3 separate regions of the Homo sapiens genome follow, and all the other regions are linked to region 2. Evidence: fine-mapped expression QTL. A gene starts in region 2. Each other region holds a variant in brackets. All regions are shown on one strand. Distances are from middle to middle.

Region 1 (2,768 bases), 22 kb before region 2:
CTTATCGTCTTTCCACGTGTCCACAGCCTTCATACTTACAGTCCTTCTGATGCCACCTGACCGTGTGCAGATAGACCCCACAGTAGTGGAAGAGGAACTCGTGGTCGGAGTGGGACGCCCTTCCTTCCAGCAGGGGCATTAGGTTCTGGCCGTCAATCACTCTTGGGAGAGAAGGGGGTGTGTAGAAGGTGATGAGAGAGGCATGGTTCAGTCACGCATTTTATAGCAGAAGAAAGAGGAGGAGGAGGAGGAGGAGGAAAAGGAAGGGGAGGAAGAGAAGGAGGCGAAAGATAAAGAGGAAGAATTTCTTTTTTCTTTTTTTTTTTTTTTGAAATGGAGTCTTGCTCTGTCACCCAGGCTGGAGTGCAATGGTGCGATCTCTGCTCACTGCAACCTCCGCCTCCCGGGTTCAAGCAATTCTCCTGCCTCAGCTTCCCAAGTAGCTGGGATTACAGGCACACGCCACCATGCCCTGCTAATTTTTGTATTTTTAGTACAGACGGGGTTTCACCATGTTGGCCAGGCTGGTCTCGAACTCCTGACCTCATGATCCGCCTGCCTCGGCCTCCCAAAGTGCTAGGATTACAGGCGTGAGCCACGGCGCCTGGCGGAAGAAGGAATTCTTAAAACTTTCTCCTTTTCCCTCATTTTATAACAAAAAGAAAGAGAAACAAAACATTCATTTTCTGAGGTCATGGAAGAAGAGAACAGCTAGAACTATTATCCTGATACCTTGCAAGACAATATGAGTTACTGTTGTGGATTGGAAAAATTAAGCTATTTACGCCCTTTTGATTCCAATAAAACTTCACATTTAATGAATAGATATCACCCCACATACATGGAATTAAATCGTTAAAGCACAGGATGTATTTGTTCATTTTAAAGCTCATAGACAAAGCCAGGCCTGGTGGCTCGTGCCTGTAATCCCAGCACTTTGGGAGGCCGAGGTGGGTGGATCACGAGGTCAAGAGATCGAGACCATCCTGGCCAACATGCTGAAACCCCATCTCTACTAAAAATACAAAAATTAGCTGAGCATGGTGGCGCCCGCCTGTAGTCCCAGCTACTCAGGAGGCTGAGGCAGAAGAATCACTTGAACCCGGGACGCAGAGATTGCACTGAGCCGAGATCACACCACTGCATTCCAGCCTGGCTGACAGGACGAGACTCTGTCTCAAAAAAAATAAATTTAAATTAAATTAAAAATAAGCTCATAGACAAAGTGCAAACCAGAAAGAATAATATCATTTAGCACACATGCAATTACACATACGTGTTTTGTTTTCGTTTTTGTTTTTGTTTGAAACAGGGCATCACCCTGTCACCCAGGCTGGAGTGCAGTGACGAGATCTCGGCTCACTGCAATCTCTACCTCCTGGGTTCAAGCGATCCTCCCACCTCAGCCTCCCAGGTAGCTGGGATTACAGGCACGTGCCACCACA[C/T]CAGACTGATTTTTGTATTTTTAGTAGAGATGGGGGTTTCACCATGTTGGCCAGGCTGGTCTCGAACTCCTGACTTCAAGTGATCCGCCAGCCTTGACCTCCCAAAGTGCTAGGATTACAGGCACGAGCCACCGCACCTGCTCTAGGCATACATGTTTTTATTCAGTAATCATTTAACACTTAATTGCATAATGGTCTAGAAGCTGTGAGGGATGTGATGATGTATGAGAATCAGATCCCATCCATGAGAACAGTCAAACACACACAGGCATAAGTGTAATATGACAAAGGATATTAAGGTATACTCTAAGAAGAAAACAAAATATTCCACCACGCACCAAGGGGAGAAAGACATCTGGCCCTATGGGCAGAATATTGATAATTAAGTAATATACTATGTACATACACACACACATAGAATTATCAAGTATATCCACTTATGTTCAAATATATCACCCTAGGTTAGGAGCAAACACTGTTTCCATACCTGTCCTGGGACAAGATCCCTCCGCCTATATAAGACAGCGTCGGATAGATGTCCATTAAGCTGGTGGGCTCATTGATCACTCTCCCAGCCTCCAAGACTGACGGCCACCGGAATATCCCTGGCACACGGATACCTCCTTCCCATCCTCCCATTCCTTTGCCACCTAAAACCAAAGATTACGACACAACCAAAGATGAGTTAAAACCCAACCATATTGGCCGGGCACGGTGGCTCACGCCTGTAATCCCAGCACTTTGGGGGGCCGAGGTGGGCGGATCACTTGAGGTCAGGAGTTCAAGACCAGCCTGGCCAACATGGTGAAACCCCGTCTCTGCTAAAAATACAAAACCATTAGCTGGGCATGGTGGTGGGCGCCTGTAATCCAAGCTACGTGGGAGGCTGAGGCAGGAGAATCGCTTAAACCCAGGAGGCGAAGGTTGTGGTGAGCCGAGATCACGCCACTGCACTCCATGGTGGTGCATGCCTGTAGTCCCACCTACTCGGGAGGCTGAAGTCGGGGGATCAGAGACGAGGAAGTGGAGATTGCAGTGAGCTGAGATTGTGCCACTGCACTCCAGCCTCGGTGACAGGGTGAGACTCTGTCTCCAAAAAATAAAAAAGAAAAAGAAAAAGAAAAGAAAAATACAGGTTTTATCCACATTATAATGATCCTTGAGGAACAAGCTAAAAAACTTTACCCCGTGATTTCCCATATAGAGGAAGAAAGAGAGGAGTGTGAGTAGAAAAATGGCCAGAGGCAGAGTTGAGAATCACTTCTTAGACAAAAGTCCCCTTGGGTGTTTCTGAGCACAAAACAAAAATGAAGCCCTTGCCGT
Region 2 (2,768 bases):
AAATAGACTAAGACACCTCATAAGAAGAAGAGATGAGGACACAGACCCACACAGAGGGACGACCCTGTGAAGACACAGGGAGAAGACGGCATCTACAAGGACAGGAGAGAGGCCTCAGGAGGAACCAGCCCTGCCCACACTTTGATCTTGAACTTCCAGCCTCCAGGACTGTGAGAGAATAAGCTGATGTTATCTAAGCCAACCAGTCTGTGGACCTTTGTCACGGCAGCCTGAGAAAATAAATACTTTATATGATTACTTGTATATGAAATTCTAAGAAGAGACACATCCATAGAGACAGAGGGTACATTTGTGGTTAACAGGGCATGGGGATAGGATGGGAAATGGGGGTCTTCTTTGTGGGGGTGACGGTTGTCCAACACTGTGAATGTACCAAATGCCACTGAATTGTTCACTTTAAAATGGTTAAAAGGTGATTTTTTTTTTTTTTTTTAAACAGAGTCTCCCTCTGTCACCCAGGCTGGAGTGCAGTGGTGGGATCATAGCTCACTGCAGCCTCAATCTCCCTTGCTCAGGCAATCCTCCTGCCCCAGCCTCCTGAGTAGCTGAGACCACAGACACACGCCACCATGTCCCAGTAGATTTTTTTTTTTATTATTTTTGTAGAGACGGGGTCTCCCTGTGTTGCCCAGGCTGATCGCAAACTCCTGGGCTCAAGCAATGCTCCCACCTTGGCCTTCCAAAGTGCTGGGATTATAGGCTTGAGCCGCCATGCCTGATCAAAAAAGGCCAATTTTTAAATGTAAATTTTGCCCAACAATGAAAACGCCACCACCAACAGCTAGAATCTAAGGAAACTGGGAGGTTAAGTGGTCTCCTGACATTTTGCAATTTTCCCCAGTGACCTCTGCTATTCCTGCCGATAACATCAGACAATGACTTCTCTCCAGAAACCCTTCTCTGCAACGGCAAAGACGTGAACACTGTGGTAAGGGAGACTCCCACATACAGGGAGGGGGTCAGAGTCCATCTTTACCTCACTGAGTTATTACCGTAGCAGCACAAATCCCCCACTCCAAGGTCATCTGCCATCAGCAGGACAATGTTGGGTCTGGCGTTTCTTGTCATAAATGTGCCATCAACACCGCAAAACAAACAGCACAGGGACACTGACAGCCAGCAGCTCCTGAAAGCATTTTTAGAAATAAGCAAACAAACAAGCAAGCAAAAAACCAGGCACTATCAATTAACATTTGCATTTTAGATAACTTAACATATGAAACAGTGATATTCGTTATCAGTTCTCACTGTACAACGTACCTGTGTTGTCTTACTCAGAAACTAGATTAAACAACAACAACAAAAACTAATGTTCTATACCGGGGTCCCCAATCCCCTGGCCATGGACCAGTACTGGTCCGTAGCCTGTTAGCAACCAGGCCACACAGCAGGAGGTGAGTGGTGGGCAAATGAGTGAAGCTTCATCTGTATTGACAGCCGCTCCCCATTGCTTGCATCACTGCCTGAGCTCCACCTCCTGTCAGATCGGTAGCAGCATTAGATTCTCATAGGAGCGAGAACTCTATTGTGAACTGTGCATGCAAAGGATCTAGGTTGTGTGCTCTTTATGAGAATCTAATGCCTGATGATCTGTCTCTGTCTTCCATCACCCCCAGATGGGATCATCTAGTCACAGGAAAACAAGCTTAGGGCACCCACTGATCATACACTACGATGAGTTGTATAATTATTTCATTATATATTATCGTGTAATAATAATAAAAATAAAGTGCACAATAAATGTAATGTGCTTGAATCATCCTGAAACCATCCTGCACCCCCTTCCTGTCTGTGGAAAAACCGTCTTCCACAAAACCAGACCCTGGTGCCAAAAATGTTGGAGACCATTGTTCTATACGAATATGGCATCATATTTTACCAATTCATTTTGCAAGCATGATGAGGTTTAACTCTTATAACATCTTTTGATATTGTTTTAGTGACATCAGAGGCTTAAAATTTATAACAGGGGTTACAGTTGAGGGTAAGCTCTAAAAATTGAATTTTGCCGGGTGCTGTGACTCATGCCTGTAATCCCAGCACTTTGGAAGGCCAATGCGGGTGGATCATTTGAGCCCAGAAGTTTGAGACTGGCCTGGGCAGCATGGTGAAACCCCATCTCTACAAACAATACAAAAATAGCTGGGCATAGTGATGCATTCCTATAATCCCAGCTACTCAGGAGGCTGAGATGAGAGGATTGCTTGAGCCTGAGAGGTCAGGATTGCAGTGAGCTATGAATGCACCACTGCACTCCAGCTTAGACAATAGAGCAAGACCCTATCTCAAAAAAAACTTTTTTGTTTACTTTATTGAATAAAAATGTAACCAAGGCCGGGCACAGTGGCTCATGCCTGTAATCCCAGTGCTTTGAGAGGCCAAGGCAAGTGGAATACCTGAGGTCAGGAGTTTGAGACCAGCCTGACAAACATGGTGAAACCCCATCTCTACTAAAAATACAAAATTAACCGGGCATGGTGACACGCGCCTGTGGTCCCAGCTACTTCAGAGGCTGAGGCAGGAGAATCACTTGAACCCAGGAGGCGGAGGTTGCAGTGAGCTGAAATTGCACCACTGCACTCCAGCCTGGGTAGCAAGAGTGAGACTCCGTCTCAAAAAAAAAAAAAAAGTAATACCATCTGCTCGGGAGGCTGAAGCAGGGATAATTGCCTGAACCTGAGAGGCGGAGGTTGCAGCGAGCCAAGATCGCGCCACTGCACTGCAGCCTGGGCAACAGAGAGAGACTC
Region 3 (2,768 bases), 43 kb before region 2:
ACAGGTGCGTGCCACGACGCCCAGCAAATTTTTCTGTATTTTTAGTAGAGACGGGGTTTCACCATGTTGGCCAGCCTGGTCTCGAACTCCTGACCTCAGATGATCCGCCTGCCTTGGCCTCCCAAAGTTCTGGGATTACAGGCTTGAGCCACCATGCCCAGCCTCAATTTTTCTTAAACTTCTCCAATCTGAGGCAAATGAAGAAAACTGGCATGGGGCCCCTTCATGTTGGGGGACCAGTTGGGGCTCCCTGTGGCCCACCCAACCTTTGATCATGTTGTAAAGTCTTTTGTTTTAACTCCATCAATTTTCCTTTTCTTTTATTTCTTAACAATTATCTAAAGATTCCAGCCTGCCCAACATTGTGAAACTTCGTCTCTACTAAAAATACAAAAAAATTAGCTGGGCGTGGTGGCAGGTGCCTGTAATCCCAGCTACTCAGGAGGTTGAGGCAGGAGAATCACTTGAACCTGGGAGGTGGGGTTGCAGTGAGCCAAGATGGCACCATTGCATGTCAGCCTGGGCAACAAGAGCGAAACTCCATCTCAAAAAAAGAAAAATTAATAATAATAACAAAATAATTATCTAAAGATTTCCACCCTTCTGGCATGAGCCCTTTGACTCACTTTTCCCTTCCCTGTTTTTGTTTGTTAATTTATTAATTTTGTTTGTTAATTAGTGAAAGGAAACCAAAATCCCCAAGCCAAGGGGAAAAGGCAAGCTGGGAACTGCATCAGAAAAACCTGCCTCCCATTTTCTCCTAAATAAGACAGCTATGGAGACAAAAACAAACAAACAAACAAACAAAACAAAACAAAAAGCTACATACCTCTTTCATAATTTGCCCACAAAGAAATTTTTTGTGGACCTCAAGATCTTTACCCTAAAACAGTTCTGTTCAATTTCACCTTGGCTTATCTTCACAGGTGTGGGTCAAAGGAGAGACAGAAGTGAAAGTCAGCCCTCTCTGCTCACCTGAGACAAATGCATATCTGATAGATTCCCCTGCCCTATTGTTTACGCAAACTTGCAGATTCACTGAACAGGCATCAGTCACTATTCCTCTACCCACCACCCCCACCCCCCAACCTCCGTCACATGTAAATTGTGTATTCTGATCAAAGACCGAAAAGAATGCAACCTTCTGTGTCTTGTCCATCCATGAGCTGGAATCCCCCACTTTGAGTTATCTCACCTTTTTTGAATGGAAACAATGTACGTCTTACATGTATTGATCGATATCTCATGTCTCCCTAAAATGTAGAAAACCAAGCTGTACGCAGACCACATTGGGCGCATGTTCTCAGGATCTCCTGAAGTCTGCGTCA[C/T]GGGCGGCCATGGTCACTCATATTTGGCTCAGAATAAACCTCTTAAAAAAATTTACAGTTTGTCTCTTCTCGTTGACACCCTAGTCTTTTGGTAGCATCTGTAAGACCCATGAGGGAAAGCTACAACTGCAAATTTGATAAGGTTTCTCAAACCATTGTTTGATTCTGCAAGAGTAATGTCACCTGGGGTGCTCTTGTAGAAGGGGACCCTTGAACCACAACATTTATAGAAATAAACCTTTCCTTTCCAAATTTATGAGCTTCACAGTTCTTCACCTAACATCATTAATACACTGAGAATCTATTGCGAACCCAAAATATCTGAGACAGGTCTCAGTCAATTTAGAAAGTTTATTTTACCAAGGTTGAGAACGTGCACCTGTGACACAGCCTCAGGAAGTCCTGACGACATGTGCCCAAGGTGTTCAGGGCACAGCTTGCTTTTATATATTTTAGGGAGACATGAGACATCAATCAATATGTGTAAGACATACATGGGCTCAGTTCAGTAATTCAGGACAACTTGAAGTGGGAGCTTTCAGATTAGAAGTAGACACGAGACAAAAGGTTACATTCTTTTGAGTCCTTGATCAGCTTTCCACTGAATACACAATTTAGGCTGGCTCCGTGAATCTGTACTTTTACATAAGCAATGAGGCAGAGGAAGTTATCAGATAAGCATTTGTCTCAGGGGAGCCTTGGAAGGATGACTTTGAGTTCCGTCTGTCCTTTGTCCACAAGGAATTTCCTTAAGCACAAATTGTGAGGGGGGTATGTAGCTTCTTATCTTTGTAGCTGTCTTATTTAAGAATCAAATGGGAGGCAGGCTTGCCTGACACAGTTCCCAGCTTGACTTTTCCCTTGGCTTAGTGATTTTGGGGTCCTGAGATTTATTTTCCTTTCACACTATGACCTCGGTGATATAGTTTGACTGTGTCCACACCCAAAGCTCATCTTGAATTGTATCTCCCATAATTCCCATTGTTGTGGGAGGGACCTGGTGGGAGATAATTGAATTCTGGTGGCAGTTTCCTCCATATTATTCTTGTGGTAGTGAATGAGTCTCACGAGATCTGATGGTTTTACAAGGAGAAACTCCTTTCGCTTGGCTCTCTTTCTTTGCCTGCCACCATCCATGTAAGATGTGACTTGTTCCTCCCTGCCCTCCACCATGATCGTGAGGCTTCCCCCACCACGTGGAACTGTAAGTCTAATTACCCCTCTTTCTTTTGTAAATTGCCCAATCTCGGGTATGTCTTTATCAGCAGCATGAAAACGGACTAATACATTGGGTAATGGGCATATTCAGCTGGTGAATATCCCGGTCATCATTAAGCCAATCCCACATGGCTTGCATATGAAGCACATCAGCTGCTTTATCTAGGGTGCTCCACTTGGCATTTTATAGGGAGGGCTGGGCAGTCCCCTTTTCAGGATAAA

Which allele goes with the higher level. Positions count from the first base shown, and alleles are read on the strand shown. Sizes are in standard deviations (SD) of each study's normalised expression. Not every link is listed here.
With allele T in place of C in region 1, the expression in minor salivary gland of the gene that starts at base 1,156 in region 2 is lower (moderate effect, 0.73 SD a copy in GTEx).

What was found. PIP is the estimated chance that this variant, and not a neighbour inherited with it, causes the effect.
Region 1: its variant is the best candidate, but not a certain one, in a credible set for the expression of ARSH in minor salivary gland (GTEx, PIP 0.82).
Region 3: its variant is the best candidate, but not a certain one, in a credible set for the expression of ARSH in nasal epithelium (TOPMed, PIP 0.51).

What each region holds. Positions count from the first base shown.
Region 1 is chrX:3,026,640-3,029,407 of GRCh38, reverse strand. ARSH (arylsulfatase family member H) reads right to left here. Exons shown (of 9, transcript NM_001011719.2): 7 at 1,933-2,095; 8 at 40-161. Among named protein-coding and RNA genes, the nearest start is that of ARSF, 13 kb to the left of the region's middle. The variant C/T (reference allele first, on the strand shown) is at 1,446.
Region 2 is chrX:3,004,934-3,007,701 of GRCh38, reverse strand. ARSH (arylsulfatase family member H) reads right to left here and starts at 1,156. Exons shown (of 9, transcript NM_001011719.2): 1 at 998-1,156. The coding sequence starts at 1,089.
Region 3 is chrX:3,047,657-3,050,424 of GRCh38, reverse strand. The region is part of intron 1 of ARSF (arylsulfatase F); the gene reads right to left. Among named protein-coding and RNA genes, the nearest start is that of ARSF, 7.6 kb to the right of the region's middle. The variant C/T (reference allele first, on the strand shown) is at 1,329.